Linked DNA regions of Homo sapiens. The main gene of each other region encodes a partner of the protein of the gene in region 2 in a complex. Each region holds a gene or a part of one and is shown on either strand. Other genes may lie near its edges.

What was found.
Region 1: GPKOW (region 2) and BUD13 share a complex: the UniProt entries of both Homo sapiens proteins name them as parts of the minor spliceosome.
Region 3: GPKOW (region 2) and SRRM1 share a complex: the UniProt entries of both Homo sapiens proteins name them as parts of the minor spliceosome.

What each region holds. Positions count from the first base shown.
Region 1 is NC_000011.10:116,762,988-116,766,640, reverse strand, and holds part of BUD13 (BUD13 homolog), read left to right. Parts: intron 1-1,194; coding exon 1,195-1,279; intron 1,280-3,374; coding exon 3,375-3,653. UniProt on the Homo sapiens protein: Involved in pre-mRNA splicing as component of the activated spliceosome. As a component of the minor spliceosome, involved in the splicing of U12-type introns in pre-mRNAs.
Region 2 is NC_000023.11:49,117,186-49,120,838, reverse strand, and holds part of GPKOW (G-patch domain and KOW motifs-containing protein), read left to right. Parts: intron 1-1,024; coding exon 1,025-1,134; intron 1,135-3,028; coding exon 3,029-3,242; intron 3,243-3,653. UniProt on the Homo sapiens protein: RNA-binding protein involved in pre-mRNA splicing. As a component of the minor spliceosome, involved in the splicing of U12-type introns in pre-mRNAs.
Region 3 is NC_000001.11:24,653,208-24,656,860, forward strand, and holds part of SRRM1 (serine/arginine repetitive matrix protein 1), read left to right. Parts: intron 1-1,098; coding exon of another isoform or gene 1,099-1,136; intron 1,137-1,647; coding exon 1,648-1,922; intron 1,923-2,444; coding exon of another isoform or gene 2,445-2,456; exon of another isoform or gene 2,457-2,483; intron 2,484-3,653. UniProt on the Homo sapiens protein: Part of pre- and post-splicing multiprotein mRNP complexes. As a component of the minor spliceosome, involved in the splicing of U12-type introns in pre-mRNAs. Involved in numerous pre-mRNA processing events.

The DNA.
Region 1 (3,653 bases), on a different chromosome or scaffold from region 2:
TCTCATTCAATCCTTATAGCAATCCTTTGAATCCCACTTTTACAAATGAGGAAATTGAGGCTTAGAATAATTTACCAAAGGTTACACAAATGCTAAGTGGCCGAGCTGGGGTTTAGATCTTAATTCATCTTGCCCGAAACCTGTGCTTTTAACGCTCAGTGAGAGATCTCAAAACTGGGTTATATGAAGAATGATGGTAGGATTTTGGGAGAAGTAGAGGGCTATTATGACCTGGATTTAAATTCCAGTTCTGCCACTTGTTAGCTTGTGACATTGAGAAAGTTACTGAACTTCTCCGAATCAGTTTGCTATTCAGTAGTGTGGAGCCTTTCTTTACAGGATTATTGTGAGAATCGAGTTAGATTATATGAGTAAACCACAAAACACAGTACCTTGCACATAGTTGCTACTCTGTAACTAGGATTTATTATGCCAGCAATCTTGAAAGTTTGTCATGTGGACTTACATCACAGGTCAGAACTAGAATGAATTCAAAGAAGTTATAGGAAGGCAGATACGGTACTAGTAAAACTAAGAACTTTCTAACATTTTTGAAAAATGCAGTGGACTGTGTTGTAAGATAATGAGTTCCTTGTCAGGAAGGGATTGGGCGAGTGACCACTTATTAGGAATACTATAGAGAAGATTCTGATTTGTTCAGAAGTTTAGAAGATATGAAATGTGGTTTTAGCTCTTAAAGATTAATGATTCTGTGTACATCTCAGTGGCTCTTTTTGGTTGTATTCAAGAAAACCTATCACTGTGACTACCTACAACAAGAAAGGATTCATAGAAACCCAAAGTCCTTGATTAGTGCTAGGCATGATGGGGGGAGCCACCTATGTTTCCACTGTTAATGTAGAAGTAAAAGTGTAAAAGGAATTTAGTTGTTAGTTTACAAGTGGCTGTTGTGTACCTAGCAGGTTAATAAAAAGGTTTGTAATGAAAAAAATTAACCTTTGCAGGGTAATTGATTAATTAGAGAAGGATCTACAATTAAACCAATACAGTGACAATCAGATGTTTATGGAGCAAACATAACTGAAGACCCCTACTTACTTCTTCATGACCATTTTGGATATATGTACGCCCTTGTGTTAGGAATCGGAATGGTTGTAACTTCAGGTTCTTGAGACAGTGCTTCTTGGCTGGATCCTGTGGATTTCCTAAGATAGGAAATCTTTACTCTCACAGGTGGCAGAGTTTGTGGATGAGCGGCCAGAAGAGGTAAAGCAGATGGAGGCCTTTCGTTCCAGTGCCAAATGGAAGCTTCTGGGAGGTGAGTTCCAACAATAGATAAATCTAAATTTCCATTAGTAGGGGAGATCTTTTTTCCTTTTCTATACTTTTCTTTAGAGGAATGCATAGTTTGTTTTAGCATGTCATTGATCCTGAAAAATAAAGCAGGAAAAAGGAAGTTGGACTTCTTCAGAGGTAGTAAGACATAGGAACTTATAGACCAGATATTCCTCTTTCTCTTATATTTTGGCATTAGGATTACTGAGGTTGGTGACTAATTTGGAGGCCTTTGAGCACCCATTCCTCTTTGACTCAGAATAGGAGAGCACTTGGTGTATAGGCAAGACTTTGGGAGGAGTTTACAAGAAACAGGAGCAGAATTTGGGGACTTTAGCTACCACTATCCTCTTCCACAATGAAGCAACTCATTTCTGGGGGGTCAAGGACCAGTGTATTTTGTTCTGTTTGTGTTAGTAAATTTCTCTCTTCTTTCCTTAAGTATTGGTGTTTTATAGTGCATTACCCTCCACTTGCCCACTTTGGACTCTTCCTAAGCTAATAATCTTAATTTAACTCTCTTTAAAAAAATTTGAGTCCTTGAGAATTGGATAAAAAGCATTTGTTTGTCACATCTGTTTGAGCATAGACTAGTCTTATTTGCCATGATATTCCCCTATCTAGCACAAGGAGCTACCTTTAATAAATATTTGTAGAATTGTTTAATTGCTAGTAGGTATTTGATTTTTGTAGCCTAATCAGAATTCTTTTCCAAAGAGAATCTTTTGGTCTCCATGTCTGTTTGTCTAGGAAGACACACAGACACACACATACACACGGTGCCTTTTCTTGTGTATCTGAATGTTTAGAAGGTCAGTCACACACACACACAGTCACACTCACACTCACTCACTCCTTTTCTTCTGCCTTGCTTTCACTCCCCCATCCCAATTTGTTATTGGAAGTACGCTTACCAATCTCTGACCCTTGCTTCCTTCAGATTTACTGTTAGGCCCCCCACAGACATCATACTTTTCTCTGTGGAGTGGATTCCAATCAGATAGGGCTGTTCCCCAAAGTAAAGGAGTTGACTTGGTTTAATTCATCCATTTAACAAGTATTCATCAGTTCCTACCCAGCTTTTATTTGTATTTGGGCTGTGGAGCTCAATGACAAGAAATAGAGGTAGAGGAAGAACTGGATTTTGAAACTGTTCCAGTTGCTATAGATATTTCATTCTGTGGTGCCTTTGAATATGGAAGGTCTCAAACTATGTATTTTAACTTTAAAGCTTTACATATTTTAAAGATTGCACATGGACTCTGGAGTCAAATAGAGCTGGATTTAAATATTCCTCTACCACTTATTAGCAATATGACTTTGGCAAGTTAATCTTTCTGAGTATCAACTTCCTCATCTATAAATGAAATGACAGTATTTATGTCCTAGGCTTGTTGTGAGAATTGAATCAGGTAATCTCTATGAAACACTGGCACACAGTAGGTGATTGGTAATTACTTGCTCCTTTCTTTTTTATGGTGATTTTTCCCCTCTCTAAGAAAGAGCACAGTGAAATGGATTAAATAGTTAACAGCATTTTATTTTGATATTCACCGTTTTAGTCAATTTACCTATTGAAAGAAGAGTGAGTACAAACTATAAAGTATCTAGGCAAAATATCAGTAGGAGCCACTAGCTGGGAACTCTGCACAAATGAGGTTTTAGAAAGAACATTGGACTGGGAGTTAGAAGACTTGGATTCTAGCCTGTGTCTTCATTTTAGGAGCTGTGACCTTAGGTAAGAAATCACTCAGCTCCTCAGCTGAAAACAGAGGCTGTGGCCTCTGTTTTCATGCTGTAATACAAGGGTACCTGCCCTGCTTACCTTAAAGGGTATAATATGAAAAATGTGCTGAAAATGCTTTGCAAATTTATGACTTGGTAGGCGGAGGGGTTATTCTTAAGATATTCATGAGTGGTGGTTTGCTGCCCCTAAGCAAGAAAACTGTGCAGGCCTTTTGGGCTTTCTGAGCAGTTCTGAGGTATGTGCTACTGGAGCATCTTTTGAAACTGGGTGTGGGGGTGGACAGAGGGACAGAGCATTTGTGGGAATCTGACTCTTTGTTATTTGTGTTTAGGCCACAACGAAGACCTACCCTCAAACAGACATTTTCGTCACGATACCCCGGATTCATCTCCTAGGAGGGTCCGTCATGGTACCCCAGATCCATCTCCTAGGAAGGACCGTCATGACACCCCGGATCCATCTCCTAGGAGGGCCCGTCATGACACCCCGGATCCTTCTCCCCTCAGAGGGGCTCGTCATGACTCAGACACATCTCCTCCCAGGAGGATCCGTCATGACTCCTCAGACACTTCACCCCCAAGGAGGGCCCGTCATGATTCTCCAGATCCTT
Region 2 (3,653 bases):
TACAAAAATTAGCTGGGCATGGTGGCACGTGCCTGTAATCACAGCTACTCGGGAGGCTGAGGCAGGAGAATCGCTTGAACCCAGGAGACTGAGGTTGCAGTGAGCTGAGATCATGCAACTGCACTCCAGCCTGGGCAACACAGCAAGACTTCATCTCAAGAAAAAAAAAAAAGAAAACCTTGGAGTCATCCTCAATTCCTCTCTTTATTTCGTGCCCCATACAATATGCCAGCACAATCCTATCATCTTTTTTCAAAATGACACCCAGAACTGACCACTTCTCACCACCACCAATACCACTGCAAAGGGCTGAGCCACCAGCATCTCTCATCTGGACTATTAGAGTAATTTCCTCACTGGTCCCTCTTGTGGCTCCCACCTGGCTCAAGGTCCTCTGACTCCTGCCCAGCTCTCCTGATTTGGTCTCTTCCCCACCCTTCTCTGCTGTCTACTCTCACTCTCTCCATTTCAGTCATGGTGACTTTCATGATACCCCTCACACATACCAAGCCTTGTCCGGCCTCAGGGCCTTTGCTGTTACTATGCTTTCAGCTTGGGACACTTTCTTCTCATATCCTCATGGCTCCCTCTGCTGTCATCTCCTGATCTCTGCTTAAATGTCAACCCAGTGGCACTCCCTCTCCATCCCTCTGCATCTTCTTACCCTGTTTTCTTGTTCTTTACATCACCACCTGACATATCATGTTTTCTGGGTTTTATTTATAGTATGTCTCCACAACTAGATCAGAAGCTCTGCAGGGGTAGGGGTTTTTGTCTGTTTGGTTCACAGCTTCATCCCCAGTACCTAGAACAGTACTTGCCATAGACAAGGTGCTTTATATTTGTTGAAGGACTGAACATGGAGGAGTACAGTGAGGGATGGAAAGAGGAAATCAAAACTCACCCTTGAGCTGATTGGAAAAGACGCGTAGCAGGTCTCCCAGTGGGGGGCAGCAAGTGCACTTCAAATAGAAGACCCAGTGTAAGCAAAGCCTGACCCTCCTTCCTCTACCTGAACCTGTAGGTGCCAGAGGAGGCTAATTATGAGGCGGTCCCCGTGGAGGCCTATGGGCTGGCCATGCTGCGGGGCATGGGCTGGAAACCTGGCGAGGGCATCGGCCGCACCTTCAATCAGTGAGTTCTGGGATAGGGTCGAGGGGACAGACAGATCATCAGGCTGCAATCAAGATCCCCAGGGTCACTGCCAAACCAGAACCACCTAGGCAGGGAGGGAGGATACATTATCGCCCTAACTAATTCAGCAGCCCCTTCCACTACTGTTTTAAACTCCCATTTGCCCTTTGAAACTCTAATAGAATCCCATTTATATAAAGTTTGCCTCTAGGGACATCAATTTCCTCATCTGAAAAATGGGGGTAATAGTACTGACTTCATAGGTCTGTTGTGAGAGTTAAATGAAATTATACACATAGGCCAGGTAGTGGCTCATGCCTGTAATCCCAGCACTTTCGGAGACTGAGGCAGGAGGATCACTTAACTCCAGGAGTTTGAGACTGGCCTGGGCAACATAGGGAGGCCCCATCTCTACAAAAGATTAATTAATTTTAAGAAAAGAAATTAGGGCCGGGTGTGGTGGCTCACACATATAATCCCAGCACTTTGGGAGGCTGAGGTGGGTGGATCACGAGGTCAGGAGATCGAGACCATCCTGGCTAACACGGTGAAAGCCCATCTCTACTAAAAAAAAAAATACAAAAAATTAGCCGGGCATGGTGGCGGGTGCCTGTAGTCCCAGCTACTCAGGAGGCTGAGGCAGGAGAATGGCGTGAACCTGGGAGGCGGAGCTTGCAGTGAGCCGAAATTGCACCACTGCATTCCAGCCTGGGTGACAGTGAGACTCCGTCTCAAAAAAAAAAAAAAAAAGGAAAAGGAAAAGAAATTATATACATAAAGCACATACAGTAGGCCCTGACCCCAAGAAAGCGTAGACTAAACATTTGCTATTGTCATGCAGACTTGCAACCCTTTCTTCACAATTGCAAACTCAATAATTCTGAAAACCAAACATTTTTTCATAACCCATTGGCAGCCAAATATGACCTGAATTGGCGTTTTTTTTTTTTTTTTTTTTTTTTTTTTGAGATGGAGTCTCTGTCTGTCACCCAGGCTGGGATGCAGTGGCGCAATCTCGGCTCGCTGCGACCTCTACCTCCTGAGTTCAAGTGATTGTCCTGCCTCAGCCTCCTGAGTAGCTGGGATTACAGGCATGCACCAGCATGCCTGGTTAATTTTTGTATTTTTAGTAGAGATGGGGTTTCCCCATGTTGACCAGGCTGGTCTTGAACTCCTGACCTTAGGTGATCTACCAACCTCGGTCTCCCAAAGTGCTGGGATTACAGGCATGAGCCACCATGCCCAACCATGTTGAGTATTTATAATCCGGTTTCTCCTGCTCGGTGTGAATGTTCATATGATTTCCCCTGTAGAAATAGTATATTTGGTTACAGCGATCTGCCTCTGATCTCACTGTAGATATTATGTAATAGATGGTATATGCAGCATGTTATTAGGTTGAACCAAATGAAATTGCTGTTTCTGTAGGTCAAAAACAGTCCTAATATGAGATCAGAAAGGGCAACCTTGAAAATATTGGTGGGGGCTGGACACGGTGGCTCACACCTGTAATCTCAGCACTTTGGGAGGCCAAAGAGGACGGATCACCTGAGGTCAGGAGTTCAAGACCGGCCTGACCAACATGGTGAAACCCTGTCTCTACTAAAAATACAAAAATTAGCCGGGCATGGTGGCATGCGCCTGTAACCCCAGCAACTCGGGAGGCTGAGGCAGGAGAATCCCTTGAACCTGGGAGGTGGAGGTTGCATTGAGTCGAGATCGAGCCATTGTACTCCAGCCTGGATGACAAGAGCAAAACTCCATCTCCAAAAAAAAAGAAAAGAAAAGAAAATGTCAATGGGGCGGGTGGGGCGGGTTTGGGCAGGAAGAGGAAGTAAATAAGGTGTTGAAGACTGTTGCATCCTCTCCAACAAACCCATATTCCTCCCTGCAGAGTAGTGAAGCCCCGTGTCAACTCACTGAGGCCCAAGGGGTTAGGGCTGGGTGCCAACCTGACCGAGGCCCAGGCCTTGACCCCCACTGGCCCCTCCCGCATGCCAAGACCAGATGAGGAGCAAGAGAAAGATAAGGAAGATCAGCCTCAAGGGCTGGTGCCTGGAGGAGCTGTGGTGGTTCTTTCTGGCCCTCACCGAGGCCTCTATGGGAAGGTAAGGAACCAAGATATCCCGGGAGCCCAAAACAGGCAGCAGGGAAGGTTGATCCGAGGGTCAGATGGAGGAATAATTGGATTTGAGGTAGAAAGGCTGGGACTCCTAGTCTTTTAGGTCTGCTTGGCCCACTGCCTCACTCAGTAACCCAGGACCACTTGCTGGCCTTTGTGAGCCTCAGTTCCCAGCTAAAAGGAAGAGAATGCCATATGCCACAAGTCCCTGAAGATTAAATGCTTAAAGGATCCAAGGAAGCCCCACAGTCAGCTGAGGGAGACACAGGAACCAGACCTGGTCCCACTTCTCAGGGGTCAGAGTCTGGTTGGGGAGACAGAGGAAGCAGGCCTCTTAGAGGTAAGGGGTTGACATCTTGGTCCTAGGAATGTGGGTGGAGTCCACAACCCCTACCTG
Region 3 (3,653 bases), on a different chromosome or scaffold from region 2:
AAGTGTCTAGTCTGGTGTTGGAAAGTAAACGAGAAATTCATCTTATTGATACTTTTCTGTTAACTTTTACCCTTCTAGACTTCACCAAGAAATCATACTAAGTAAGAGAATTGGCCACCTTCTCTTTGGCTTTTAACTGGCTTCTGAAAAGTAGCTGATTATAGGGCCAGTAAGCTCCTTTTACCAGTATTAAAGTAATTCATTTGCTGTTATACTTTGAGAAAAGTATTTTTATGAATTTTTTATAAAATTCTCAGAAAATTCTCATTATAGAAGTAATGAAGCTTATAAGTAATTCAGACAGAAATAGCATAACTTGGAAGTTTTCCATAATCCGTGGGGGAATATATCTATATTCCATAGATATAATTGCTATTACTAGTTTAGTGTCTGGTTATTTTTCAAAACCCCAACTGTACCAGTGTTCTTTTTTTTACATCATTCTAAAATGAGCATAAGATAAAATATTTGAATCTTGGATATATCACTTTAAACAAAAATTAGTGGCTAAGTCTACCCAAAGTAGAGTCCTAGTGCACTGGTAGCAGTTTTTGTGCCTTCTTGCAATACGTTTCACCTGGCTTGGGAAGAAATGCCGATGATTAAGCTTCCAGTTATTTTGGACAGAATTTTTTGTTTGAGTCTTTTAAAGTTCTTTTCAGGGAACCAAATCAATTTGGAAATAAAGAGGGGAAAAATCAAGTAAGCTCTGTAAAGTTACTTTGTTTCTGCAGTCAGGTTTTTCAGAGTCCCATATTTTGAAAATTTTCTTTGGGGAGGGGTTGTTAAGATATATTGAACTATTACTACTGTTGCAAAGAATTGATGTGTTGTGCTCATAGAGGAAATTAGTGAGGTAAATGGTCAGTCAATTTTCAGGCATCACACTTTTCTAATTCCCTTTTAGGAGAAAAGTAATGCTGGTGCTTCCTAGTACAAGATTAGTGGAAACAGCTATTTCTTATACTGGAGTTTTGCAAACAGCATGTTTAAATTGTGCTTACTCAGCCATTTAGCAGTCAATATTTTACAGATTGTTTAAGATTCCCTTTCAGCCAGTTTTTATCTCACACTTAAGGTAGGGTTTCTTTTTTTCAGGTTCTCAGGAATTCTTCCGCCAAAGGTGAATTCTGCAGGTACACATAATTGCAACAGAACTTAACACAAATTTTGCCGCAGAATTCGAGAGGCCCCTGCTTCTAAGTTTATGTAGCTAAATGAATTCTTAGTTTTGCACATCTTTTTTAAAAATGCAACCTAAAGGTTTCTCAACATTGTGTTATTAAATGGAAAATACCTTGCCCCCAAATTTTATATGCAAACTCCAAAACACCAATACCATTCCTAAGGCAGAAGGACTAGTTAGTTATTTTATTATAGCATTCAACCTGACAAGTTTTATAACTGGAGAGAGAACACAGACAGAAGTATTTATCAGATTAAGTTGTTTATATTAATCTCAGAACTAGCTGTTTCCTGGCCTAGGTTATGGTTTTTTCCCCCATTCTTTTGGACTCATTTATGTGCTTAGCTACATAAACTCAAAAGTCGGATTAAAATAGCTGTATTTTTGTGTAAACTGTTCATACCTGTAAGGCCGTTCTTTATAAGTGTGCAATTAGTGAATATGAATACTTTATTCCACAGAAGAAGACGTTCGTCAGCATCCTTGTCTGGGAGTAGCTCATCATCCTCTTCATCTCGTTCACGGTCACCACCAAAGAAGCCTCCCAAGAGGACATCCAGCCCCCCTCGGAAAACTCGTAGGTTATCTCCTTCAGCAAGTCCTCCAAGGCGAAGGCACAGGCCATCACCTCCTGCAACTCCACCACCCAAAACTCGGCATTCCCCTACACCCCAGCAGTCAAACCGTACAAGAAAAAGTCGTGTTTCTGTGTCTCCAGGGAGAACTTCAGGTAAAGGTAAAAATCAAACACATATGAAACATGGTCTCTCTTTCTTTGGCTACAAAGCGTAGTCAGTTATTGCCCCCTGCTCACTCTCAAAGTATGAAATAGCTAGATAATATTTGTATCTAATACTCTCTGTAGGTTTACTTATAAGCCTACCTCTTTCCTGCTTTAAAATCTTGGGGCTTTTTTATGTGTAAAAGGGTTTTGTTTTTAGCAATGCCCTGTGGCATTGCGCAGGTGGAGAAATCTTTTACCAGCCGTGGGCTGTTTGAGTTGGGGTAACATATCAAAGTTTGCGTTGGCATGATAAGGGATCATTTTATTACTATGAGACCAGTTAACTTTTTTTTCTCCTGAAGATTTTTGGTTTGATATCTTAAATAAGAGGACTTCATATTCTCTTTTAGTTCTTTCTTGGTCGCATTGCGCTCCCAAGCAAAGGACATGGTGTCCTCTTAAAAGCTGATTTGTTTTTTTAATTTAGGTTCTAGGCAGGGTTCTTCTGAGTGTTGTCCTTGCTTTATTCTGCAGATTGATTTCTGAGGAATTTATGATCTGTGAACCTGCCAGGCAAGTAGAATGCTGTGTTAGTCTGAGTGAAGGTTGTGGTCTATTGGGGTTTGTTCTGTGAGCATTAAATACGCATGGAAAAAACTGTAGTGTCCATTTGAACCAGGCTCTCTGGAGCTTAGGGCTGGAATGATATACAGCCTAAAAGGTGAGTAGTAAGGGATGGGGAGGATCTTAAAAGCTGCTAAAGCAATTGAGTTTTAAGGAGCAATCTGTAGGTTAACACACGCTGGGGTTATTATGATCATATTGAAAATTTCAGGTTAGAGCCAGGTGTGGTGGCATGAGCCTGTGGTCCCAGCTACTCAGAAGGCTAAGGCAGGAAGATCACTTGATCCCAGAAGTTCAAGGCTGGCCTCAGCCCCATAGCGAGATCCTGACTCTTAAAAAAAGAGAGAGAAAAAATTTCAGGTTAGAAACAAAGAAATGGGGATGGGCAAAATTTTCATTATACATTTTAATGAGCTTGATGAGACCAGCATTGCTAATTATTCACCCTGTTGCCTTATCTCCCCACTCCCCAAGGCTGCAATGTGGTGATACCTAGAAAGGCAAATTTTGCTTTCCTTTTTTGTATCTGTGACAATGAGGCATAGATAAGCTGACAGAGTGAAAGGGTGACCAGCAGATTATGATAGTCTGTAAAAAGTAATGTTTTCTGAATTGTGACATTTTTATTGTAGTGATAGGTTCATTAAATAAGACATGGCCACTTTTGTTGGCCCCTTAGAGAAGCAGCTAGTGAAAGTAGAGAAGCCTGTAACTGTTCCAGGTTCAGTCCTCAGTTTGAGAGAGGGGCTTCGGGATCACTGTTTTCATAACCTCATGTACCATACTGCTTTTCAGCATTGGGAAAATTTCAGTCCATTTTCAGTTACCATGTCCAAATCTGATGCCCATGGCCCTGGCCTATTTTGTCTTTTCCTGTAAAGTTTGTACTTCTGAATATTTATTCTTTGTCTGGAGCCACAAAGCTCTCCAGGGAAAAAAACAAGTGTTTTTACCTGTTACTTTGCAAAAACACATCAAGTGATGATTTTTTTCTATTTATATCATATAGCCTAAGAGTTGCAAAAGTACCTGAACAGAGGGACCAATCCTTGTTAAAATAGGTTGATTGTTAAGAATTATTAGGTACTTTTAAAAAGCATCTGCACAGATGCTAATTTC